7 linked regions of the Homo sapiens genome follow. The protein of the gene in region 2 purifies or fractionates together with the protein of the main gene of each other region. This does not show direct contact. Each region holds a gene or a part of one and is shown on either strand. Other genes may lie near its edges.

Region 1 (3,500 bases), on a different chromosome or scaffold from region 2:
GCTGATTCCGCCAAGCCCATTCCCTTGGCTGTGGTTTCGCTGGATAGTAGGTAGGGACAGTGGGAATCTCGTTCATCCATTCATGTGCGTCACTAATTAGATGACAAGGCATTTGGCTACCTTAAGAGAGTCATAGTTACTCCCGCCGTTTACCCGTGCTTCATTGAATTTCTTCACTTTGACATTCAGAGCACTGGGCAGAAATCACATGGCATCAACACCCGCCGCGGGCCTTCGCGATTATTAACTCTTGTAAGCCTAATCTAGGTTACTGTATTCTACCTGATGATCATTCATACTGGCCATTTCCTTCCTCTGACCTACTTGGGCCACAGGTTTCTAAGCTCCACTTTTGGAGTAGACAAATGAAAGAAGGCTTCCAGCAACCATTTCACAGAGGAGTGAAGGCCTTTCACCAAGGACAGTTTTGCTGAGAATGCTGGGAATTTTTTTTTTCTTTTTTTTGAGACAAGGTCTCTGTCTGTTGCCTGGGCTGGAGTGCAGTGGCATGGTCAGCTCACTGTGACCTCAAACTTCTGTGTCCAAGGGATCCTCCTGCCTCAGCCTCCTGAGTAGCTGGAACTAGAGATACACACCACTACACCTGGCTAATTTTAATTTTTTTTGTGTGGAGATTGGGGGGTCTTACTTTTTTGCCCAGTCTCGTCTTAAACTCCTGTCTTCAAGCAATCCTCCCGCCTCAGCCCCGCAAAATGCTGGGATTATAGGCATGAGCCACTGCACCTGCTGAACACAGAAATTATGGCCCCTGTTCATTTGTTTTTCCCATGATCATTGCTGTTTCAGCCCCCCTCTGCCCTTCTTTTTCTTTCTTTCTTTCTTTTTTTTGAGACAGAATCTCACTCTGTCACCCAGGCTGGAGTGCAGTGGCAGCGATCTCAGCTCACTGCAACCTCTGCCTCCCAGGTTCAAGTGATTCTCCTGCTTCAGCCTCCCAAGTAGCTGGGACTACAGGCACACGCCACCATACCCAGCTAATTTTTGTATTTTTAGTAGAGAAGGGGTTTCATCATGTTGACCAGACTGGTCTTGAACTCCTGACCTCAAGTAATCCACCTGGCTCAGCCTCCCAAAGTGCTGGGATTACAGGTGTGAGCCACTGTGCCCGGCCCTCCCCTTCATTTTCTAAAAAAAAATGAAGCCCAAGCACTTGTCTTTAAAGATAATAAGGATCAGGAAACTGAGACACCTGCATTTTTTTCCTATAGTAGGTTTGGGAGCTTGGAGCCTAGAACTAGAGTGGGGAGTAGCAGCTTTAAGAAATAAGGGTAGGCCAGGTGTGGTGGCTCACGCCTGTAATCCCAACACTTTGGGAGGCTGAAGTAGGAAGATCACCTGAGGTCAGGAGTTCGAGACCAACCTGGCCAACATGGTGAAACCCCATCTCTACTAAAGATACAAAATTAGCCGGGCATGACGGTGGGCGCCTGTAATCCCAGCTACTTGGGAGGCTGAGGCAGGAGAATCACTTTAACCCGGGAGGCGGAGGTTGCAGTGAGCCGAGATCATGCCACTGCAGTTCAGCTTGTGTGACAGAGTGAGACTATCTCAAGAAAAGAAAAAAGAAAAAGAAAAAGAAATAAGGGTAGGCTGGGCACAATTGCTCATGCCAGTAATTCCAACACTATGGGAGTCTGAGGCAGGAGGATCACTTGAGGTCAAGAGTTGGAGACTAGCCTGGGCAACATAGCAAGATCTTGTCTCTACAAAAAAATTTAAAAAGAAAATTACCTGGCGTGGTGGCACGTGCCTGTAATCCCCACTCCTCAGGAGGCTGAGGCAGGAAGATCACTTGCGCCCAGGAGTTTGAGGCTTCAGTGAGTTATGATCGTGCCACTGCACTCCAGCCTGGGTGGCAGAGTAAGACCCTGTTTTAAAGAAAAAAAAAGAAAGAAAGAAGTGTAGAATCAGGGGGAGGCCCCATGACCTGAGGAGAGATGAAGGATTATAGGGCAAGTGGGTGAGACATGCCTTCCGCAGTTTCAACATTGACCACAGTTTCAACATTGGAAGACCTGTGTGGTTCCCTACTCTGCCTTCATAAGTATATTTACATAGAGCAGGTCCTAGTCCTAGGATAAGCTTCATTTGTTCCTCTAGTTCCTTTGTGCGCTGCAGTATAGTAGGCTGTCTACACAGGGAGCTGGGAGGTCCCCCAGGATGCTGAGGAAAGAACTCTGTTGCAGTTTATGAGCCTTAAAGAACTGGCCAGTGATTTGAGTGGACTCTTCATTGAGCCGTCTCTCCGTAGAGAGAGAGATAAATGACTTCCTAGCTGCTTGCAATGTAGTGGAAAGAATGCAATTACAAAATAACTCCAAATACTGGTGGTTGGTGATGGATGCTGGGCCATGGTATGATTCAGAGCCAGGGAGGGAGTGCTCTTCTGGTGAAGGTGCCTGAGAACACTTTTCATAATAAGAATTAATATTCTTACCTGTCTTTGCGCTTAATAGAGACACTCTGTTCATATTACTTATTCACCATGAATTCAGGAAATGTTTACTGAACACTGCTTCATGCTGGATTAGGGGAATAGAGATGTCTACAGTGTTGACCTACCCCCAAGGCTCAATCTTAGTAAAGTTGGTGTCATGTTTCTTCTTGTGTTTTGAGGTTCACAACAGATGTCATCATCCATTTTGTTAAATGCTCCTCTCGCTTCTGCCTTTTTCTCATTTCTGTCACCCTTTAGGTCTTATATCCAGATGGCCAGGCTCAGATGATTCACCCCAAGCCTGCAGACTTCCGGAATCCTGGCCCAGGGCGGCACCGGCTCATCACTCAGGTTTATCTCTCCCACACCGCTTGGACAGGTAAGGAGTCAGGACCAGGGTGGGAAGGGAAATATGCTGCTGGAGATCACACCTACCCTTAAGCGTTTGGTTTTTAAAGTTTGAAAAAAATACATGGATGAATCAGGCCTTGTAAGAATTGAACTTAATGAGTTTATAAGCACTCATTAAGTGGGTAAAAAACTGGGTATATTTGGGCTAATTTGCTACAGTGCTTTGATTGCATGAGAGATAAGATTCTGTTGGAAGATATACAGGCGATTATGATAGAATGGAGTCTCATGGAAAGGGCCCTGGTCTGGACACCAGGAGATTATTCTTATCCTAACTGCCACCGACTTGCTTGGTCACCTTAGACAAGTCTCTCCCTTTCTGAGTCTTTTTCCTTATCTTCCAAATGACAATAATAATTCTCAACCTACAAATTAGTTGTGAGGATTTTTAAAAATATTTTTTTTCATTTGCCAACTTATGTCTGAATTGTGAGGATAAAATGGGAGAATACAAGTACAAAGGAGATTACATTTCAAGCCTGTAAGCCTGCTTTAAAAAACTTAAGAAGACCTCAGTCTGCAGAACCTAGAATAGGGGGCAGAATTGGCCTCAGTGGTGTTTCCCAAATAATTGGAGATGGTTCAGGAGCACTGTTACTGGAGGTGTTTAATGCCACCAAATTTGGTTTAT
Region 2 (3,500 bases):
TTTTTGGACTATGTTAGTAGGCAAACACAAATTTTAAATATATACTTTATTCCTGTTAATGTCAGCTTATCATTAGGAGATATGCCATTCTATCTTTGGTAATGCCTTTTGCTTAAAGTCTGCTTTATGGGATGTTAATGTAGGTATGTCTACATTACCTGGCTTTCTGGTTGGTATTTGCTTGGTGTATGTTTTCATTCTTTGGTTTTTTCTTTTTTTCTTTTTTTGAGACGGAGTCTTGCTCTGTCGCCCAGGCTGGAGTGCAGTGGCATGATCTCGGCTCACTGCAAGCTCTGCCTCCCAGGTTCATGCCATTCTCCTGCCTCGGCCTCCTGAGTAGCTGGGATTACAGGGGCCCGCCACCACACCCAGCTAATTTTTTGTATTTTTAGTAGAGACGGGGTTTCACCGTGTTAGCCAGGATGGTCTGGATCTCCTGACCTCGTGATCCGCCCGTCTCGGCCTCCCAAAGTGCTGGGATTACAGGCATGAGCCACCGCTCCCGGCCCATTTGGTTTTTTAACTGTCCTTTACACTTATGCTTTGGTTGTGTCTTTTGTAAACAGCATGGAGTTTGGCTTTGCTTCTTTTTTCCAATATGATGATCTTAGATTCATAACTGGATAATTTAAGCCATTTATATTTAGTTAAATCACTGATGTATTGGAGTTTAAATCTAACATCTAGGTACATGATTTCTACTTGTCCCAACCGTTCTATTCTCTTTTGTATCCCTTCTGTTTGTTTCTCTGTCTTTATTTTCAAACAAGCTTTTAAATCAAAGTACAATTTTATACAGAGAAGTATTAATACAGATAGTAAGTATACAACTCAAATTATCACAAAGGGAGCAGACCAGTGTAACCACCACTGAGGTCAAGAAATAGAACATTAACAACACCCCAAACACTCCACTCATGTACTACACCATTCATTACCCCCTTTATCCTTGCTATGTTCTGGATGCAAGCACGTTGTATGTGTTGCAAGTATGTTCTCCAGCCCTGCAACTTGCATTTGTCCTCCTTAATGGTATCTTTTGATGCAGAAATTAATTCTGATACAGTCCATTTTATCCATATTTCCTCATAGCTAGTGCTTTTTGGCCCTTTTAAAGAAATATTTCCTTACCTAAAACTTACCAAGATACTCTCCTATGTTGTATTAAAGAATTCCACTGACCAATGTGGTAGCTACTAACTACATATGGCTATTGAGCCCTTATATTATGGCTAGTCTGAATTGAAGTGTGCTGTAAGTGTAAAATATATACAAGATTTTGAAGAGTGTATAAAGAATGTACCAAATCTTAACAATTTTGTGTTGATTGCATGTTGAAATATTGGGTTAGGTTCAATATGAATAACCTAGTGAATAACCTAGGTTTCTTTCACTAGGTTAAATGAAACATCATTAAAATTAATTTTACCCATTTCTTCCTTTTTAATGTGGCTGCTAGAAAATTTAAAATTATACATGTAGTCCACATTTATAGGTCACATTATATTTCTTCACACAGCACTGTTCTAGAAAAAAAGTCTAAGGACTTTCCCAATGTCCCTAGAAGTTATTTTTATGTATGACATGAGGTAGGGGTCTTATTTCCTTTTGCTGTATGGCTGTCCAGTTATTCTGACACAATTTATTCAAAAGAGAGTCCTTTAACTTCTATGCAGTGCCATATTTATCCTAAACCAAGTGATCACATATGTATAGGTATTTTTCTAACCATATAGCCTGTCCCATTGGTATTTTTATTTATCCTTGTGTCAATACCATACTCTATGAATTACTATGTATGTATGTATGTATTTTATTTATTTACTTATTTATTTTGAGATAAAGTCTTACTCTGTAGCCCAAAGCTACAGTGCAGTGGCGTGATCACGGCTGACTGCAGCCTTGACCTCCCTACCTCAGGTGATCCTCCCACCTTAACCTTTCAAGTAGCTGGGACTACAGGTGCGTACCACCACACCCAGATAATTTTTGTATTTTTTGTAGAAACGGGGTTTTACCATGTTGCCCACGCTGGAATTACTATGGATTTTTAAGTCATGATATCCAGTAGGAATTGGAATTGATCATTTTTTTGAGACAGGGTCTCGTGCTGTCTCTTTTTTAATAGAAATTTACTGAGAACAAATTTATTAAATAAATGTCTACATGGGATATAAAAGGGAACATTGTGCCATGCTATACAATGTTACTTACACCATTCATTTCAAATTTTATGGCAAAACAATTATACTGTGGTAGGGAGATGTTGTTTTACACTTCTCACCAAACTAAACATTATCATATTTTTCCTGAGAGAATGTCAACACTTTGCTATCTTAAGTGATCACACCACTGCAATCCAGACTGGGTGACAGAGAGAGAGAAAGACCCTGTCTCAAAAACAAAAACAAACCGGGCATAGTGGCTTATGCCTGTAATCTCAGCTGTTTGGGAGGCCAAGGCGGGTCAGGTGTTTGAGACCAGCCTGGCCAACATGGTGAAACCTCATCTCTACTAAAACTACAAAAATTATTTGGCCATGGTGGTGAATACCTGTAATTCCAGCTACTCGGGAGGCTAAGGCAGAAGAGTCGCTTGAACATGGGAGATGGAGATTGCAGTGAGCCGAGATCGAGCCACTGCACTCCAGCCTGGGCGACAGAGTAAGATTCCATCTCAAAAAACAAAAATAAAACAAAGAATAAAGCAGACATGACACTGAGGCTTCACAGACAATCTTAGTTGCCTCCCTGTCCGTACGTGCTCATGAGCCTCTCATCCCATATAATTCCTGCTTCTCCAGGTGAACAGGCCTTCACGATGACCAGAGACAGAAGCCCCTGACTTGGCTAAAGATACTTCTGCTCTCCCCATCCCCACATCCTCTTTCAGTTACGCATCACCTCACTCCTTCTGAACCATATGGTTCTGATGTCAGAGCCAGTGTAGTAAAGAGCTTCTGCTGTTCCTGAGAACTGTTGCTGCTGGAAGTGATGCTTCCACTGCTACAGCTGGGTAAGTAAGGTGAGAAGCAGCACTGGAGGTGTGTTTGGAAGCCAAGACTCCAGGGCCTGGGTGTTGGCAGGGCAGAGGATGGGCTATGGAGGCATGGAGAAAGAGGACATATGGGCATAAGTACCAAATAATCAACATGAATTAGACAGCTTCTGTGTGTCAGATTTTGACAGGGCTGGTGTGTCTGAAGCAAATAGCAAATTGGGCAAGGGAGAGGGATGGAGAGTGTAGGTGCTATGAAGGCATGAGAGCACTAGGAGCTGTTTCAGACATTACTGGAAGCCCTGAAGTTAAGTTTTTCAGTGTTTCTGTGGGCACACTTTGCCAGGTGGAAAAGACAATTCAGAGGACAGCCATAGAGGGGTCCGTACATGAGAGTCCCCCGCAGATTCCTCAACAGCGCCCCGCAAGTGACTCAGGTGAAGAGACCGAGATCAGGAGCTACTGGTTAGGGGAAAATTACCCCTTTCTTCCAGTAACCTCAA
Region 3 (3,500 bases), on a different chromosome or scaffold from region 2:
TCTCAGGCCACTCTCTTCTCAGTATGTGTCCTTGTCTGAAACACGTGGGTAATAATTTCTGTTTTTTTAGGGTTATTGTGAGGAACACAACTAGTAGATGCTCAATAAATGACAGCAATGACTACTATCATTACTGTGGTCTGTGCAGTCACAGCGGGTGGGACTGGAGCTTGAGAAAGAGCTGGCATCAGGACAGGGGCACCAAATGTGACCGCTGTCTTTGGTTGGGGGATCCCAGGAAGGCTGTGTTCACCTCCACCCTCCAACCCCAATGATGGGCTGTCCACCAACCTTGCTCACTGAATTCACTATCCTCTGTCTCCATCTGCTCCTCATCCTCATCACTGTCGTAGTTGTAGTTGGGGTCGTGTTTTATGTATTGGAGGCAGAGGCTGGTCACGTTGGGCACGTGAGGACCCATTTCCTTGGGGCACCTGTGGGGCAGGATGAGGAATGCTTTGCTGGATCCAGCCAGGACAGGAGTGGGGGACAGGGCCCAATGGGAGTCCTGAAATTTTACTGCTTTGGGCCAGCATCCCCACCAACTTCCCAAAGGGATCCCCAGGCAACCCCACCATACATACTTCCTCAAGAAGGCCTCAAAAGCCTGGAGGCAGGACTCCCGGAGCTCATCATCATCCAGGTTGCAGAAATCCTCCACCAGGGGCACCAGGCGGTCCAGGTGAGCCCCTGCAGGGCCAGGTGGATCACTGAACCCAAGCCAGACACTCTCCCGGAGTTCCCCCAGCCCACAGCACTCAGACTGTCTATGCACCTGCAGCCCTGACCACTGTAGATTCAACTCAGAGGTTTCATAGTCAAGCAAATGTGGGTTCTAGCCCTGACTCTGCCACCCAACTGCTATGGGACCTTGGGCAGGTCACAACATTTCTTTGACCTTAGTCAGCTAATCTTCACAACAAGGATAACAGTGCCTCCTGGGCAGAGATTTTGTGAAGATAAATTATATAATGATAAATAGCTTAGGCCAGGCGCGCCTGTAATCCCAGCACTATGGGAGGCCGAGGCGGGTGGATCATGAGGTCAGGAGATCGAGACTATCCTGGCTAACAAGGTGAAACCCCGTCTCTACTAAAAATACAAAAAATTAGCCGGGCGCGGTGGCGGGCGCCTGTAGTCCCAGCTACTCAGGAGGCTGAGGCAGGAGAATGGCGTGAACCCGGGAAGCGGAGCTTGCAGTGAGCCGAGATTGCGCCACTGCAGTCCGCAGTCTGGCCTGGGCGACAGAGCGAGACTCCGTCTCAAAAAAAAAAAAAAAAAAAAAAAAATTAGCCGGGCACGGTGGCACACACCTGTAGTCCCAGCTATTCAGGAGGCTGAGGCAGGAGAATTGCTTGAACCTGGGAGGTGGAGGTTGCAGTGAGACAAGATAGCGTCACCGTACTCCAGCCTGGGGGACAGAGCGAGATTCTATCTCCAAAAAAAAAAAAAAAAAAAGATAAACAGCTTAGGCCGGGCATGGTGGCTCACACCTGTAATCCCAGCACTTTGGGAGGCCAAGGCAGATGGATCATCTGAGGTCAGGAGTTCGAGACCAGCTTGGCCAACATGGTGAAACTCCATCTCTACTAAAAATACAAAAATTAGCTGCACGTGGCAGTGCGCCCCTGTAATCCCAGCTACTTGGGAGGCTGAGGCAGAATTGCTTGAACCTGGGAGGTGGAGGTTACAGTGAGCAGAGATCGTGCCACTACACTCCAGCCTGGGAAACAGAGCAAGACACGAGACTCAGTCTCAAAAAGAAAAAAAAAAAAGAAGTTAAAAAAGCTTAGTCCAAGGTTGGGTGCAGTGGCTCACCCCTGTAATCCCAGCACTTTGGGAGGCCGAGGCGGGCAGATCATGGGATCACAAGGTCAGGGGTTCAAGACCAACCTGGCCAACCAACATAGTTAAACCCCGTCTCTACTAAAAATACAAAAATTAGCTGGGTATGGTAGCGTGCGCCTGTAGTGCCAGCTACTCAGGAGGCTGAGACAGGAGAATCACTTGAATCCGGGAGGCGGAGGTTGCGGTGAGCCGAGACTGCACCATTGCACTCCAGCCTGGGCAACAGAGCGAGACTCCGTCTCAAAAAAATAAATAAAAAAGCTTAGTCCAGGTTCTACACGAGCAGGCACTCGATAAATAGCATCTGTTATCAAAACCATTATTCATGTCCTGGCCTAATTTCCTTCACTAGGTTTAAGTCCTTGGATAGGAGAAAGGGAGGCAGGTACTGCCCTAATAGACCAGGCAAGAGGGGTTCCTGCCTGGTCTCCAGGCTTTAGAGCACTCCACTCAAGCCCTTCTCCAGCCATACCCTTCCCTACAGCATAAGAAGAGACATGCTGACCTAGAGACCCCCAACACTCCTAGACTCCATTCTGTCTGGGTATCTGGGGACCCGAGTTTCCTGCCCAATGGATCCTGACCCCTTGTCCGAGCCTGCGCAGGCCTCTTTCCTAGGTCCATGCAACCAAGGATGGCTGAGGGCTGGCTGCTGTTTGGGAGAAATGGGACAGGGTGTGGCCATGTCAGCTGGGGTTCCCCCCCCCACCCCCCGCCGTGTGCCTGCAAGGCCCCTTGCAGTGAGAGAGCCAGGGGTTGGGAGGGGCTGACCATATGCCAGTTCTATCCAAACTGTCTTGGTATAGTCAGAACTCCAAGGTGTCTGAGGATACATTCAAACCTGATTGCAGCTTTCCATTTCTAAAAAACTAATCTATAGTGACAGAAAGCAGATCAGTGGCTTCCTGGACAAGGCAGAGAGCTGGACTGCAAACGGACACAAGGAAGCTTTTGGGGGTGATGGAAAGGTTTCACGGATATACACAAAGGTCAAAACACACTGAATTGCACACTTTAAATAGTGCGGTTTATTGTATGCACATTAAATTGTTTCTTAAAAATTCAAACTTGGCTCATGGGCTGTTACTAAGATATCTTTGTCAAACTGGGAGAAGAGAACATAGTCTAACAGTTTAGTGGCATGACTTAAAATTGTAATTACCAGCCAGCCTCCACGTCTCATAAGTGATTGAACCAACCCCCTTCTCTGAACCGTCTGCACTCAGCAGGGGCTCAGGCCTGGGGGTTTGTCGAGCTCAGGGCCCGCCCTGCGCCTCTCAAGCCCTATCCGGCCCCAACCTCTGCGTTTCAGGGGCTTCAGCCGCCCGCCCCAGGCCCCACCCACCACATCAGCCCAGGCCCCGCCCCATCCTCCCTACCAAGGCAGACGGCCCACCCTTAGGCCCTGGCTGCACTGCGGCCCAAGCTCCGCCCCTTTACCGAGTCATTGGCTCACCCTAAGCTCCGCCCACCATGCCAGCCCAGGCCCCGCCCCCTGCCCCCTTACCGAGGCGGTGGCCGGCCTGGCGGCCGACGCTGCCCAAACATTGGATCAGGGTGCGGATGGCAGTCGGGCTGGTGGGCACCCGCGGGCCGGGCAGCCGGTCCAGTAGGTGGTCAGCGAGCTCGACGAAGAGGTCGGTGCTGCAGGC
Region 4 (3,500 bases), 5.4 Mb from region 2:
ATGCAGTAGCCTTCAGATCTTTTCCCATGTACATAAAAATAATAGTATACTTAGCCAATGTTTACTGTATATACTAACTCATTTAATCCTCAAAATAGTCTTGGGAGGTAAGCCCTGTTACTATCCCTGTTTCCTAGAAGAGGAAACTGAGAGCCAGAGAAGTTAAATGTCTTGCCTCAGGTCATTCTGCGTATACATAAACACATACTTGACAAAAATGGCTTGAACTGCATGTATTGTCCTCTGATGCAACAGGCTGTCAGGGACCTCTTTTCAGGATAATATACTGAGATTCACCTTTTTTTTTTGAGATGGAGTCTGTCTTTATGTCCCAGACTGGAGTGCAGTGGCATGATCTCGGCTCACTGCAACCTCCGCCTCCTGGGTTCAAGCGATTCTTCTGCCTCAGCCTCCTGAGTAGCTGGGATTATAGGCTCAGCTAACTGTTGTATTTTTACTAGAGATGGGGTTTCACCATGTTGGCCAGGCTGGTCTCAAACTCCTAACCTCAGACGATCCACCCGTTTCGGCCTCCCAAAGTGTTGGGATTACAGGCGTGAGCCACCGCGCCCGGCTTCACCAATTTTTTTTACCCTGTTTCCTCTGCTGGTTTTTGGTTTATCCTTTCAGATTTTTTTCCTTTTTTAACATATATATTTTTTCCCCTTTCTTTTTTTTGAGTCAAGTTCTCACTCTGCTGCCCAGGCTGGAGGGCAGTGGCCCGATCTTGGCTCACTACAGCCTCTGCCTTCACCTCCCTGAGTAGCTGGGACTACCAGGCACGCCACCATGCCCAGCTAATTTTTATATTTTCTGTAGAGATAGGGTTACACCATGTTGCCCAGGCTGCTCTCCGACTCCTAGGCTCAAGCGATCTGCCTGCCTCAGCCTCCCAAAGTGTTGGGAGTACAGGCATGAGCCACTGCACCTGGCCTCATTTTTCTTTTTTTTTTGTAAAACAGAAACATACAGTCAACACTGTCTTCAGCTTTGCTTGTTTTCACTTAATGTATGCACTCTCTATCAGTGTCTAGAGATTGTTCTCATTTTTTTGTTTTTTTCTTCCTTTCTTGTTACAGTTCCATAGTCTTTTTCCTTTATTTATATTTATATGTTTTTCACTTACTTTCACAGGTGTTGAAGCCCCATGGCCTTTGATTATGTATGAACTTTTTTTCAGCCAGTCTCCCTATTTGAGAACACTTGAGTTGCTTCTAGTCTTTTGCTATTATGAATAGTTGTGTAATTGACATATACTGCTACGTTAATCATTCCATAATTTTGCCTGTGTGACTGTGATGGATGCCTGAAAGCCCCCTTCCTCCCTTTTAAAAACAGCTTCATGATATTCCAGAGAGTGGCTGAAACATAATTATTGAAGCAGGCCTTTTGTGATGTATTGAGTGCCTACTATGTGCCGGACTCTGTGCCTGATATTCCTCAGAGCTGTGTTTTTAAAAGTTTACTCTGGGCCAGGCACTGTGGTTCACGCCTGTAATCCCTGCACTTTGGGAGGCCGAGGCAGGTGGAACACCTGAGGTCAGGAGTTTGACACCAGCCTGGCCAACATGGTGAAACCCTGTCTCTACTGAAAATACAAAAATTAGCTGGGCATGGTGGCATGTGCCCGTAATCCCAGTTACTTGGGAGGCTGAGGCAGGAGAATCACTTGAACCTGGGAGGCAGAGGTTGCAGTGAGCTGAGATCGCACCACCACACTCCAACCTGGGTGACAGAGCAAGACTTCATCTCAAAAAAAAAAAAAAAAGAAAGTTTGCTGTGGTGCCCAGTCCAAAGCATATCCCAGATGGAGAGAGGGGACACACGGAGACCTGCAAGGTGGCTGTTGCACGTTCATGTGGCCCATCGTTCAGCAGCTGTTTGTGGTTGGCCCACTTGAGGCTGAGACTTCTGGCTCTGCCTTGGGAGATGTCAGTCTCCCCCAAGTTACAGGCCCCGTGCACATATCCATAAGCCAGAGACAGACCCTGGAGGGGAGAGGGACTTGAGAAGGCCTGACTGGGGAGGAACAGCCTGGGAAGGAGGCTTGGGCCCTTTGTAGGTGTTCGGGTGACAATCCAGCCCAGCCCATCCGCTGGTTCCCTGAGCTTGATCCATCCTCTTCTTTCCTGGGGACAAGCTGACAGCAGCCATGGCGAGCGGCAGTGGAGACAGCGTCACCCGTCGGAGCGTGGCATCACAGTTTTTCACTCAAGAGGAGGGGCCGGGCATCGATGGCATGACCACCTCAGAGAGGGTGAGCGTGGCGGGTAGGGCTTGGAGTGAGGAAGCATAGCCCCTGGCTTTGGCAATCCCTGTTTAGGTGGCAGAGCCCTGGGAGTGCCGAGGGGGCTGCACTGGGCTGGACTGGGCTGGCACTATCCCCTGCCACTCCCCCTCCTTCCAGGTGGTGGATCTTCTGAACCAGGCGGCGCTGATCACCAATGACTCAAAGATCACAGTGCTCAAACAGGTGAGGGCCCGGGGGGCATCCTGGGCTGAGCAGGTGAAAGGGAGGAGGCTGGGAACCTGAGAAAGACACTTGCAGTAACACCAGTGTCCACATTTACACACTCAGTGTGTGCCGGCCACAGTGCTCAGTGCAGGCCTCTGCTCTTCTAGTTCTCATGAAAGCTCTGTAAGGCAGGGTAGTTTCATCCCTGTTTTATACAGAAAGAAGCAGACCCCGGGGCTTAAATTATTAGCCCAGGGTCACTCTGCTGGGAGCTGGCTGAACTAGTAATTGAATCCTGGATTCCAGCTCCAAATCCTACACTCTTCATCATTGCATTTCTTCTCTGCCAGTGTCCAGTCCAGTGGGGCAGACATTCCTGTCACCAGGCAATGATGACCCAGTGTGGGCAGGGCTGGGATGGAGAAGGGAGCCCAGGGGGGCTCTGGGAGCCCAGAGGGAGCTCCTGACCCAGCCTAGGGATGGGGAGTCAGGGAGGACTTTTGAACCAAGCCATGGAGGATAAAAGGAGAGAAGTGTACCAAATGAGAGAGGCAGAGCATCTCTTTTTTTTTTTTTTTTGAGGCAGAGTCTTGCTCTGTTGCCCAGGCTGGAGTGCCATGGCACGATCCTGGCTCTCACTGCAACTCCTGCCTCAGCCTCTTGAGTAGCTGAGATTACAGGCACCTGCCACCATGCCTGGCTAATTTTTGTATTTTTAGTAGAGACGCGTTTCACCATGTTGACCAGGCTGGTCTCAAACTCGTGAGCTCAAGTGGTCCACCCTCCTTGGCCCCCGCAAACTGCTGGGATTACAGGCACGAGCCACCGTGCCCAGCCAAGAGAGGGAGAGCATGTCAAGCTGAGGGCACAGAAGTGTGTGCAAAGGCAGAAGACGACATGGGACACTTGGGCTGGGCATGGTTCAGAGCAGGAGGCAGTTGGAGTTCAGAGACTGGCAGGGTTAGCATTCCTGTGTGAGAACCCGTTCGGCTCCTTCATCAGCCTGTAGCCTTGTGGAGTAGCCCCACCTCCGAGGTGGAGTGGA
Region 5 (3,500 bases), on a different chromosome or scaffold from region 2:
CCACAATGGACTGTGGTATGTGATGCAAGTGGTGAGCCAGCTCCTGGACCCCCGCACCTCAGAGTTCACTGCGGCCTTTGTGGGCCGCCTTGTTTCCACCCTCATCTCCAAGGCAGGGCGGGAACTCGGGGAGAATCTAGACCAGATTCTTCGTGCCATCCTCAGTAAGATGCAGCAGGCAGAGACGCTCAGTGTCATGCAGGTAAGAGAGCAGTGGGGAGTGGGCTTCCTACTCCCTGGCTGATAGAAATGAAAATTCGTATTTTGGTCCTGAGTTATTTTATTTTACCCTCTTACTAGCCTTGTAGGACAGTTAAGTAAAATGGGACCTGTCTGATCTGTTTGGCCTAAGAAACATGGACAAGGAAATCTCCCATGTTTTCTTGTCCTGTGGATAATACCCTCAGTGTAGACTGTATTTCTTATCTGACTGGCCAGTTCCCTCTCATCTCCTATGTCTCTGAAATTGATTTCCCTGAAGCAAATGTCCTTATTTTCTCCTAGTCCCTGATCATGGTGTTCGCTCATCTGGTGCACACTCAGCTAGAACCTCTCTTGGAGTTCCTGTGTAGCCTCCCAGGACCTACTGGCAAACCTGCTCTAGAGTTTGTGATGGCTGAGTGGACAAGCCGACAGCACCTGTTCTATGGACAGTATGAAGGCAAAGTCAGGTAGAACCTCATCTTTCTTTTCTGGGCATTCTGCCACCACTCATATTTCTTTTTTTTTTTTTTTTTTTTTTTTTTTTTTGAGACAGTCTCGCTCTGTCGCCCAGGCTGGAGTGCAGTGGCACAATCTTGGCTCACTGCAACCTCCACCTCCTAGGTTCAAGCAATTCTCCTGCTCCTGCCTCAGCCGTCCGAATATTACACACATGCACCACCATACCCAGTGAATTCTTTGTGTGTGTGTTTTTAGTAGAGAGAGGGTTTCACCATGTTGGCCAGGCTGGTCTTGAACTCCTGACCTCAAGTGATCCACCCACTTCGGCCTCCCACAGTGCTGGGATTACAGGTGTGAGCCACTGCTCCTGACACATATTTCTTTTTTTTCCTGATTTGCTCCATTGATTTTTGTTTGACATTTCAAATGGCTCTCTGTATTCCCTTTTCCCTGTCTTTCTTTATTGCTAACGCACATATGTGAATAGCTGCCATCTTGAAATCCCCAAAAGACAGTCAACACAGGTAGACTATATATTTCTGGTCTCTGTTTACAAGAGATCCCTTCTCTACCACAGACTTCACACAGCTAAGTGCTGCTAGTGGCTTATTTTCCTTTATAAGCCCAAGCCTTGGCCAGGCACAGTGGCTCACACCTATAATCCCAGCACTTTAGGAGGCTGAGGCGAGCAGATCACCGGAGGTCAGGAGTTCAAGACCAGCCTGGCAAACATGGTGAAACACTGTCTCTACTATAAATACAAAAAATAGCTGGATGTGGTTGTGGGTGCCTGTAATCCCAGCTACTCGGGAGGCTAAGGCAGGAGAATCGCTTGAACCAAGGAGGCAGATCACGCCATTGCACTTCAGCCTGGGCGACGAGCGAAATTGTCTCAGAAAAATAAAAATAAAAAACCCAACCTTCTAACCCTGGCTTCCTAACTTTTTATCCTGGATTTTTATACCACTGATTCTTATCACCTCGTTGCACCTTACAATATGGTGCAACCTTAGCTTTGTTCAAGAAGAACAGGTCACCTGTAATCCCGGCACTTTGGAAGACTGAGGTGGGCGAATTGCTTGAGACCCACCCGGGCAACATGGTGAAACCTGTGTCTACCAAAAAAATACAAAAATTAGCCAGGCACGGTGGCGCATGCCTATAGTCCCAGCTACTTGGGAGGCTGAGGTGGGAGGATCACCTGAACCCAGGGAGGTCAAGGCTGCAGTGAACCATGATCACACCACTGCACTCAGCCTGGGTGACAGAATGAGACCCTATCTCAAAAACAACAACAACAACAACAACAACAAAAAAGCACAGATCTCATTAAACCACCTCATGAACTCTAAAATCTCATTTTCAGCTGAACTCTCTTAGCTCTCCTAATTAGTTGTTAACGGAATTTTCACTATCAAATAGAGGGTCTTAGGACATAATTGCTTATCTCCTTGGAGTGAACTCGAGATGGGCGGCTGATTGACCTTTTTTTGGATCTTCCTTGCCAGCTCTGTGGCACTCTGTAAGCTGCTCCAGCATGGCATCAATGCAGATGACAAACGGCTACAGGATATCCGTGTGAAGGGAGAGGAGATCTACAGCATGGATGAGGGCATCCGCACCCGCTCTAAGTCAGCCAAAAGTGGGTGCTGCTGCGATTCTTCCAATCCTCTCCCTATACGAAGGGGCTAAGGATACCTGGGTGAAGGGAAGGAATGCACTGTGGTGTATATTTTTAAAACAATTGTTGGTGATGGGTTTGATAAAGAAGAAGCAGGAAACTTAGGTAAAAGGGATCAGAACATACGGTTTCTTCCTGTTGTGGAAAATGGACAAAAATAGGCCGGGCATGGTGGCTCACGCCTGTAATCCCAGCACTTGGTGGGAGGCCAGAGCGGATGGATCACTTGAAGTCAGGAGTTTGAGACTAGCCTGACCAACATGGTGAAATCCCGTCTTTACTAAAAATACAAAAATTAGCCAGGCATGGTGGTGGGCGCCTGTAATCCCAGCTACTTGGGAGGCTGAGGCAGGAGAATCGCTTGAACCTGGGAGGCAGAGGTTGCGGTGAGCAAAGATCGTGCCACTGCATTCCAGCCTGGACAACAAAATGAGACTCCGTCTCAAAAAAAAAAAAAAAAAAAAAATGCAGGCGTGGTGGCTCACACCTGTAATCCCAGCACTTTGGGAGGCCGAGGTGGGTGGATCGCCTGAGGCCGGGAGTTCGAGACCAGCCTGACCAACATAGAGAAACCCCGTCTCTACCAAAAATACAAAGTTAGCCAGGCATGGTGGCGCATGCCTGTAATCCCAGCTACTCGGGAGGCTGAGGCAGGAGAATCGCTTGAACCCGGGAGGTGGAGGTTGCAGTGAGCCAAGATCACGCCATTGCACTCCAGCCTGGGCAATAAGAGCAAAACTCTGTCTGAAGAAAAAAAAAAGACAAAAATAGTCTCAGGCACCAAGCATCCCAGCTTCCAGCTTCATTCAGAAGCGTGGGCACAGATAGTCAGCATGTCTTTGTTACTGAGTTGCCTTTGGCCTGTAACTCCAATGATTTGCAGGTAGGGAGTATAGAGCTGCTATCTTTAATGTAGATTTATAATTACCTCCGCTGTCTCTCAAATTCTAAGTCATTGGGACTGGAGTACTGGCTCTATACAGTTCCTTGGTTTCAGAGCTTTATTACTAACAAGACTGTATCTCCTTTAATCCCTGAACTCTCATCTCTCCCAGCTTCTGAACTGTTACAATACCAAACAATAAAGTTATTTAACTTTAAGTCACTCTTTGGAGACTGGATATAGTCAGGTACAGTGAAAGTCTGAGGGGTGGTG
Region 6 (3,500 bases), on a different chromosome or scaffold from region 2:
TGTTGTTCTTTTTGATTTTGTTGCTCTTGTCTAAATTATTATTATAATAAAATCTGGGTTGATTTATAGTCCCATAGTTAATTCTTTGTAAAGAGTATTTTCTAGCATGCGTTATGTTTCATGTGCCAGTGACTTTTCTTCCAGTTTTTGTGTCTAAAGTCCAGCTAAGTAATTGTCTGTTTAATTCTAGATGATATACTGCTGGAAATGTTAAGTAGAGTTAATAATGTATGTTTTTTGCGTGATTGTAACAGTGATTGTAATCATGATTGTAATATGAGTGTATCATATTGAATGGTTATGTTAGAAGCACTGAATTGAGTGGCACAGTATTTGTTTTACTGTATAGACAGAATTCTAGTATGACAGTTATGTACAGAATACAATGTGTTCACAATTAATTTGCCAAGTAAGTTCTTGTCATAAAAAATATTCATCTTAATAGAAAATGTTTTTGGCTGGGCATGGTGGCTCACACCTGTAATCCCAGCACTTTGGGAGGCTGAGGAGGGTGGATCACGAGGTCAGGAGTTTGAGACCATCCTGGCCAACATGGTGAAACCCCGTCTCTCCTAAAAATCAGCTGTGCGTACTGGCACACACCTGTAATCCCAGCTACTCAGGGGGCTAAAGCGGGAGAATCACTTGAACCTGGGAGGCAGAGGTTGCAGTGAGCCAAGATCGCACCACTGCACTCCAGCCTGAGCGACAGAACAAGACTCCATCTCAAAAAAAAAAAAAAAAAAAAAAACCACAAAATGTTTTCACGTGACAAACTACCTCCTATTCAATTGAATTCTTATTTTAAAACTCCGTATTAGAGATACGAATAAAATGTTACATATACAATAAATAATATATAAGTAATAAGAGGTTAATGTAATATTTTTGAATTAAATATTTCCTTAGGAAAATGTTCTGCTGCTGCCCTGGATGTTCTTGCAAATGTGTATCGTGATGAACTGCTGCCACATATTTTGCCCCTTTTGAAAGAATTACTTTTTCATCATGAATGGGTTGTTAAAGAATCAGGCATTTTGGTTTTAGGAGCAATTGCTGAAGGTAAGCCTAAGTCCAGTTTGAATTATGTAAGTTGGCTTCTTACTACTATTAGGTACTAATAAGGCTAGGCTACTTTAAGGAATTTCTATTTTGAACCAGATAACTAGTATTAAACAGCCATAGGCCGTCTTCTAACCCCAGCTAGATATTTTGCAAAATGTTTTTGTTATAATAAAGGTAACAGAGGCCAGGCATGGTGGCTCACGCCTATAATCTCAGCACTTTGGGAGGCTTAGGCGGGTGGATTACCTGAGATGGTTTCAAGACCAGCCTGGTTAACATGGCGAAACCACGTCTGCTAAAAATACAAAAATTAGCTGGGCGTGGTGGCATGTGCCTGTAGTCCCAGCTACTTGGAAGGCTGAGGCAGGAGAATTGCTTGGACCTGGGAAGTGGTAGTTGCAGTGAGCTGAATTCGTGCGATTGCACTCCAGCCTGGGTGACAGAGCAAGACTCCATCTCAATAAAAAATAAAAACAAAAAAATTAAGGGAACAGAATGAAAGGCTCTGATGTCTGAAGCATCCCCATTGCTTTAAAAAAAAATCCTTGATTCTTTAGGTAAGTATAGGAAACACAATAAGGCAAGACTCTCTTCATTCTCTATGAAGGGTTATTATTGATTTTGTCCTGGCAGTAAACATCTATTAGAAGAAATTGAAACACTGTAAGATGCTTGGGAGCAGGTAGCTCTAACTTCAGGGTTTTAAAAATAATTTTGGTATAGGTTATTGTAGTATGTGTATAGCAGTAGAAATATTCTGAATTTTTTCATAGATACGTGTTTTATTTTCATAATCAACCAAAATAATGTTAACTAAATTTTAGCATTTTGAAAGATTTATTTTTTTTCTAGGTTGCATGCAGGGCATGATTCCATACTTGCCTGAGCTTATTCCTCACCTTATTCAGTGCCTCTCTGATAAAAAGGCTCTTGTGCGTTCCATAACATGCTGGACTCTTAGCCGCTATGCACACTGGGTGGTCAGCCAGCCGCCAGACACGTACCTGAAGCCATTAATGACAGAATTGCTAAAGCGCATCCTGGACAGCAACAAGAGAGTACAAGAAGCTGCCTGCAGGTGGGACAGATTCATAACACAGTGTTCTTTGTGGCAGTGAAAAACTTAATTTTCAACCTTCTGATGGAGTGTTGGTGTTAAACCTATAATGAAGTGTTTCGTAATTGAAAATTTTCCAGTTATATCAGAAAGCTTAGTTTTCTTTTTTCTTCTTGGTGAAGTGTTTTGCAGGATCTGTAGCTTTTGGGTTTGCATATTAGCGTATTTTATACATTTTGTTTGGCCAGGAGAATTTTGTCATGTGGGTTTTACCTGATGATTTTGTAGATCTAAATGTGACAACATCGATCTTAGCTGTTTCTTCTTTGGCTCATTTTTCCCACTCAGTGGTTATTATAACAGAACTATCTTACACCCTAATTCCCTCAGACATCTGAACTAGTGATGGCAGGACTCCTACTCTTGAAGGAATAACAACGTTTGAGCAGATTGACATCCTTAGACTACAGGTCAACCACCATAACTCAGAAAGTCCCACAGGGACCTGTGGTCTGTCACTTACCAGTTAAAGGTCTTTGAGTGCTTAGTAGTTCTGCTCTAGTAGCCATTCTATTGGTTGGTTTGGTGGCTGTCTCTTTATATCAAGCCAGCAGTTGCTTTTATTACTACAAATATTCCAGTTTCCTGCAATATACCTTTATATTTTAAAAGGGCCTTCTGCTTATGTTTATAGTTCTTAATTTTTCGAGTAGGTTTGCTTTTACCATTGACCTTGATAGTAGGAAAAAATAACTGTTGAACAAAAAAAAGGAAAATTTTATTTTATTTTTTTTAGATGGAGTCTTGCTCTGTCGCCCAGGCTGGAGTGCAGTGGTGTGATCTTGGCTTACTGTAACCTCCGCCTCTCGGGTTCAAGCAATTCTCCTGCCTCTGCCTCCTGAGTAGCTGGGACTACAGGTGTGCGACACCATGCCCAGCTAATTTTTGTATTTTTAGTAGAGATGGGGTTTTGTCATGTTGGCCAGGCTGGTCTTGAACTCCTGACCTCAAGTGATCCACCCATCTTGGCCTCCCAAAGTGCTGGGATTGCAGGCGTGAGCCACCGCGCCTGGCAGGGATAGTAAATTTGAGTTTGACCTTAATCCATCTGAAGCAGTCATATCTGGAAGATATTAAGGGAGGGAGGATATAGATTATGTTTGAGATCCTATAATTTATTCATTCAGTACCTCGGTTTTTTTTTTTAGCTATTAATTGTTAAGCATATACTAAATGCTGAGTTTACATAAAGTCCCTGCCATCTTGAGACTTACAGGTTAGTAGGAAATACAAAGCAGCAACATAATTATCATTTATGGCAAGTGCTATGGAAGAAATCGGTAAATAATTCACAGTGCTGATGACCAGGGCTTTCATT
Region 7 (3,803 bases), on a different chromosome or scaffold from region 2:
AGTGAGCTCAGTGGATTGCAGCACTGCACTCCAGCCTAGGCGATGAAGCAAGACCCATCTCTATTAAAAACAAAAAACAAGCAAACAAACAAAACCAGCGCTGGGCATGGTGGCTCACACCAGTAATCCCAGCACTATGGAAGGCCAAGGTGGTAGGATCACTTGAGCCCACGAGTTCAAGACCAGCCTGGGCAACATAGTGAGACCCCACCTCTACTAAAAATTTAAAAAAATTACTCCAGCATGGTAGTGCGCTGCTTGTAGTCCTAGCTACTGTGGTGGCAGAGGCAGGAGGATCACTTGCGTCCGGGAGGTCGAGGCTGCAGTGACCCATGACTGCAGCACGGCTCTCTGGCCTGGGCGACAGAGAGAGACCCTGTTCCAAAAACAAAAAAACCACAACACTACAGACTAACCTCTGGCTAACAAAGGAATTTTTTTTTTAAGGTGGGGTCTCACTGTGTTGCCCAGGCTAGTCTTGAACTCCTGGACTCAAGCAAACCTCCTGCCTCGGCCTCCCAAACTGCTGGGATTACAGGCATGAGTATGCACCCAGCCTAACAAAGGAATTTCATTAAGGCTTTATACCTTTGAGAGAAGAAAAACAATTAAGTATTATTACCATAGCAATGCATACTAACTAGGAAAATCAATCTGAACAGCAGACCTTTCAGAGGTTAGGGGTTATTTTCCCAATTCATGGTTTACATAATTCCTTTCTATAGTTTATATAACTCCTACCACCTGCCATTCAGTCACCTTTGTAACTATCATTTTTAATAATGCACATTCTCAGTTTATTCTTTACTTACCGAGTTCCATTTACCTTGGAAGTAAAAACATTTTTTCCAAATTCTTACAGCTATCTGCTTCAGCAAATGGTTAAATACACCCTAAATTAAATACTTTATTTAAATGAATTAATCATATCTACCAAGTCATATATGATTTTTTGTTTTTTGTTTGCAGATACGTAAAGAAGGGAGAGGTAACTATAGCACAGATCAGCTGTGTGTTCTTGACAATGTGAAAATGAATTTGCGAAGATTTATTGCTTATCAAGAAACTGTTGAGAAAAGACTGACTTCTTAAACAATCCAAAAAAGAAACCAGTTCTTCCCCCAAAGTATTCAATGCTTAGAATACTAAAAGGTTTTCTTTGAATGTATATGTTTCTGAAAGTCATTTTTTAATGATTACATTCTGTACATTCTGTAAAAACTTCAAAACCTGGCCAGGCATGGTGGCTCACGCCTATAATCCCAGCACCTTGGGAGACCGAGGCGGGTGGATCACTTGAGGTCAGGAGTTTGAGGCCAGCCTGGCCAACATGGTGAAACCGCATGCATAAGCATGGTGGCACATGCCTGTGATCCCAGCTACTCGGGAGGCTGAGGGAGGAGAGTCGGTTGAACCTGGGAGACAGAGGTTGCAGTGAGCTGAGATCACGCTACTGCACTCCAGCCTGGGTGACAGAGGGAGACCCTGTCTCCAAAAAAAAAAAAAAAAAAAAACTTCAAAACCTGTCAGAAACTCTGTTGCTGGTTTTTTTGTGTGTGTGTTTTGTTTGTTTGTTTTGTTTTGTTGTTTTTTTCTTTTTTGAGATGGAGTCTCACTGCTGCCCAGGCTGTATTACAGTGCTGCGATCTTGGCTTACTGCAACCTCTGCCATTCCAGGTTCAAGCGATTCTCATGCCTCAGCCTCCTGAGTAGCTGGAATTACAGGCACCCACCACCACACCTTGTTTTTGTTTTTGGTTTTTTGGTTTGTTTTTTTTTTTCAGTAGAGACGGGTTTCACCGTGTTGGCCAGGCTGGTCTCAAATTCCTGACCTCAAGTGATCCGCCTGCCCTGGCCTCCCAAAGTGCTGGGATTACAGGCATGAGCCACCGTGCCTGGCCAGAAACTCTTTTTTAAGTGATGAGATCTGTGTGGCATTTCTAGCGCTCTCTAAATTATGTCTCTGGCATATTTTAATCACTGGAAACTCAAAGAGTGGAAGAGTGGAAGTGCGAAGGAATCTCAGGTAGCTCTTAACTAATTCGCCAGCAGTGAAGAAACTTCAACCAATCATGTTTTCCTTGAATTTTGCAAAGAAAGAAAATCCAAAGCATTGCTTGGATGTTCTTTTAAGGCATTTTATATCAGTTGAACCTTAAACTGAAATATGAAGACAAGCTTTATAAACTAGTTTTTTGATATGAAGTATATCAATTATGTTTGCCTTTTGTGAAGAAGTAAATGAGTTGAATTTCTATTTCACTTACTAGATTATACTAATGAGCTAATGGGGTCATTGCCATCCTCCCTACTCATGACTTTGATGAGTTATTGCTGTAACATCACTTCTTGATTTAATTTGATATGGAATCAGAATTGGGAGAAGGTATTTTTAAATAAACAACTTTTTAATGGAAAGTTTTGTGTCTTACAAAATCTTTTTTAAGATACCAAATAAAGGGTTATTAGTAGAAAATGAGATGATACTATTCGTGGATATTTGTTTGCTAATGCATATTGCTTGGAATATATGTGAGACATTAAAAAAATGACAGCACGACTTTGCAGCATTACCTCTCAGTGTCTTCGAAGTACTAGGTGACAGCTGGGGCTCGAGGGAGTTTCCCTGTGCATCATTGTCTCGGCTGGGCCTCTGAACCGGCTTCATTGTCCATCCGTTTGCCTGATGAGAAGGGAAATTTGAAAATTTCTGTACAGTTGATCTCAGTTGCCCTGACAAAAGGCCCAATCCCCAGTACAGGACTTAATTTTAATTCACTGCTTCCACAGCAGCACAAAATGAGCTAGTAGTGTTAGATTTCATCTGCACTGTGATGTATTTTACAGTTTTCACCTATATGATATAGACTGTTGGGAAACCAAGATTGTTTCCCAGCCCTAAGAGTTCCTAGCCCATGGCACCAAGTAAAATAACCCAAATTGTGTATATGGTGGGAAAACAGAAATGTATACCATATACAACACCTCGCTTTATTATGGTCCTTGCTCATGAATTTTAAGGTATATATGTATGTTTAGTGATCATTTCAGCTAAATGATTGGCCCAAGCATGTCTCCTTGGAGAACGACTCTTCCAAAAAAGAAAGTATTAGAGTTCTCTCTGCCTCAATTATTTATAAAATATAATTATTTTCAAGGAGAAAAAAGTTCCTCATTCTGTTTATTCTTCCCCACAGTTTCTGACCTATAAACAATATCCAGGATATTTAGCACAGGACCTAGTATATAGTCGACTCTTCATAAATATTTGTTGAGTAAATAAATGCTGGTGATTTTCTCGTTGTTTTGTGTGTGATTTTCTGTTTTACTAAGCAAGCTCTAAAGCAGCTGTTGAATGCAGAATCATCCTTAAACACGGTAGAAGATGAGATGACACTGAAGATGTGCCATCCTAAAAATCTCTTAGATTCTGAGGCATGGATAATTGGGTCTGGATTTCTCCCATTCAACTTTACCACTCTAACGACACAAAAGAAGGGAAAACAACTCATAAATACAGCATACAGTTTTAACTATTTACATAATAACTCAATAGAGCATGCAAGTATTATTCATGGCACAGGATAATGGAGAGCTTTTTCTGTATGACCATAGGGGAAAAAAAGTCTGCTTTAAAATATACTTATTTGAAAATCACCCAGAATAGCCCGTTAGAAATACACACTGGAGGCCAAGCATTTTGGGAGGTCGAGGTGGGCAGATCACTTAAGGTGAGGAATTTGAGACCAGCCTGGCCAACATAGTGAAATCCCATCTCTACAAAAATACAAAAACTAGCTGGG

The links.
Region 1: the proteins of SIGLECL1 (region 2) and INTS4 purify together in Homo sapiens (co-immunoprecipitation; 3 studies listed by BioGRID and IntAct, with this or other methods). This does not show direct contact.
Region 3: the proteins of SIGLECL1 (region 2) and CAND2 purify together in Homo sapiens (co-immunoprecipitation; 3 studies listed by BioGRID and IntAct, with this or other methods). This does not show direct contact.
Region 4: the proteins of SIGLECL1 (region 2) and SYMPK purify together in Homo sapiens (co-immunoprecipitation; 3 studies listed by BioGRID and IntAct, with this or other methods). This does not show direct contact.
Region 5: the proteins of SIGLECL1 (region 2) and IPO9 purify together in Homo sapiens (co-immunoprecipitation; 3 studies listed by BioGRID and IntAct, with this or other methods). This does not show direct contact.
Region 6: the proteins of SIGLECL1 (region 2) and TNPO1 purify together in Homo sapiens (co-immunoprecipitation; 3 studies listed by BioGRID and IntAct, with this or other methods). This does not show direct contact.
Region 7: the proteins of SIGLECL1 (region 2) and HEATR3 purify together in Homo sapiens (co-immunoprecipitation; 3 studies listed by BioGRID and IntAct, with this or other methods). This does not show direct contact.

What each region holds. Positions count from the first base shown.
Region 1 is NC_000011.10:77,883,169-77,886,668, reverse strand, and holds part of INTS4 (integrator complex subunit 4), read left to right. Parts: intron 1-1,752; exon of another isoform or gene 1,753-1,889; intron 1,890-2,716; coding exon 2,717-2,837; intron 2,838-3,500. UniProt on the Homo sapiens protein: Component of the integrator complex, a multiprotein complex that terminates RNA polymerase II (Pol II) transcription in the promoter-proximal region of genes.
Region 2 is NC_000019.10:51,261,080-51,264,579, forward strand, and holds part of SIGLECL1 (SIGLEC family-like protein 1), read left to right. Parts: intron 1-2,803; 5' UTR 2,804-2,993; coding exon 2,994-3,015; exon of another isoform or gene 3,016-3,098; intron 3,099-3,500.
Region 3 is NC_000003.12:12,810,180-12,813,679, reverse strand, and holds part of CAND2 (cullin-associated NEDD8-dissociated protein 2), read right to left. Parts: coding exon 3,356-3,500; intron 691-3,355; coding exon 585-690; intron 435-584; coding exon 292-434; intron 1-291.
Region 4 is NC_000019.10:45,853,148-45,856,647, reverse strand, and holds part of SYMPK (symplekin), read left to right. Parts: intron 1-2,140; 5' UTR 2,141-2,152; coding exon 2,153-2,257; intron 2,258-2,407; coding exon 2,408-2,473; intron 2,474-3,500. UniProt on the Homo sapiens protein: Scaffold protein that functions as a component of a multimolecular complex involved in histone mRNA 3'-end processing. Specific component of the tight junction (TJ) plaque, but might not be an exclusively junctional component. May have a house-keeping rule.
Region 5 is NC_000001.11:201,870,657-201,874,156, forward strand, and holds part of IPO9 (importin-9), read left to right. Parts: coding exon 1-202; intron 203-504; coding exon 505-671; intron 672-2,171; coding exon 2,172-2,305; intron 2,306-3,500. UniProt on the Homo sapiens protein: Nuclear transport receptor that mediates nuclear import of proteins, such as histones, proteasome and actin. Serves as receptor for nuclear localization signals (NLS) in cargo substrates.
Region 6 is NC_000005.10:72,886,161-72,889,660, forward strand, and holds part of TNPO1 (transportin-1), read left to right. Parts: intron 1-909; coding exon 910-1,062; intron 1,063-1,917; coding exon 1,918-2,143; intron 2,144-3,500. UniProt on the Homo sapiens protein: Functions in nuclear protein import as nuclear transport receptor. Serves as receptor for nuclear localization signals (NLS) in cargo substrates.
Region 7 is NC_000016.10:50,103,970-50,107,772, forward strand, and holds the end of HEATR3 (HEAT repeat-containing protein 3), read left to right. Parts: intron 1-969; coding exon 970-1,092; 3' UTR 1,093-3,303; downstream 3,304-3,803. UniProt on the Homo sapiens protein: Plays a role in ribosome biogenesis and in nuclear import of the 60S ribosomal protein L5/large ribosomal subunit protein uL18 (RPL5). Required for proper erythrocyte maturation.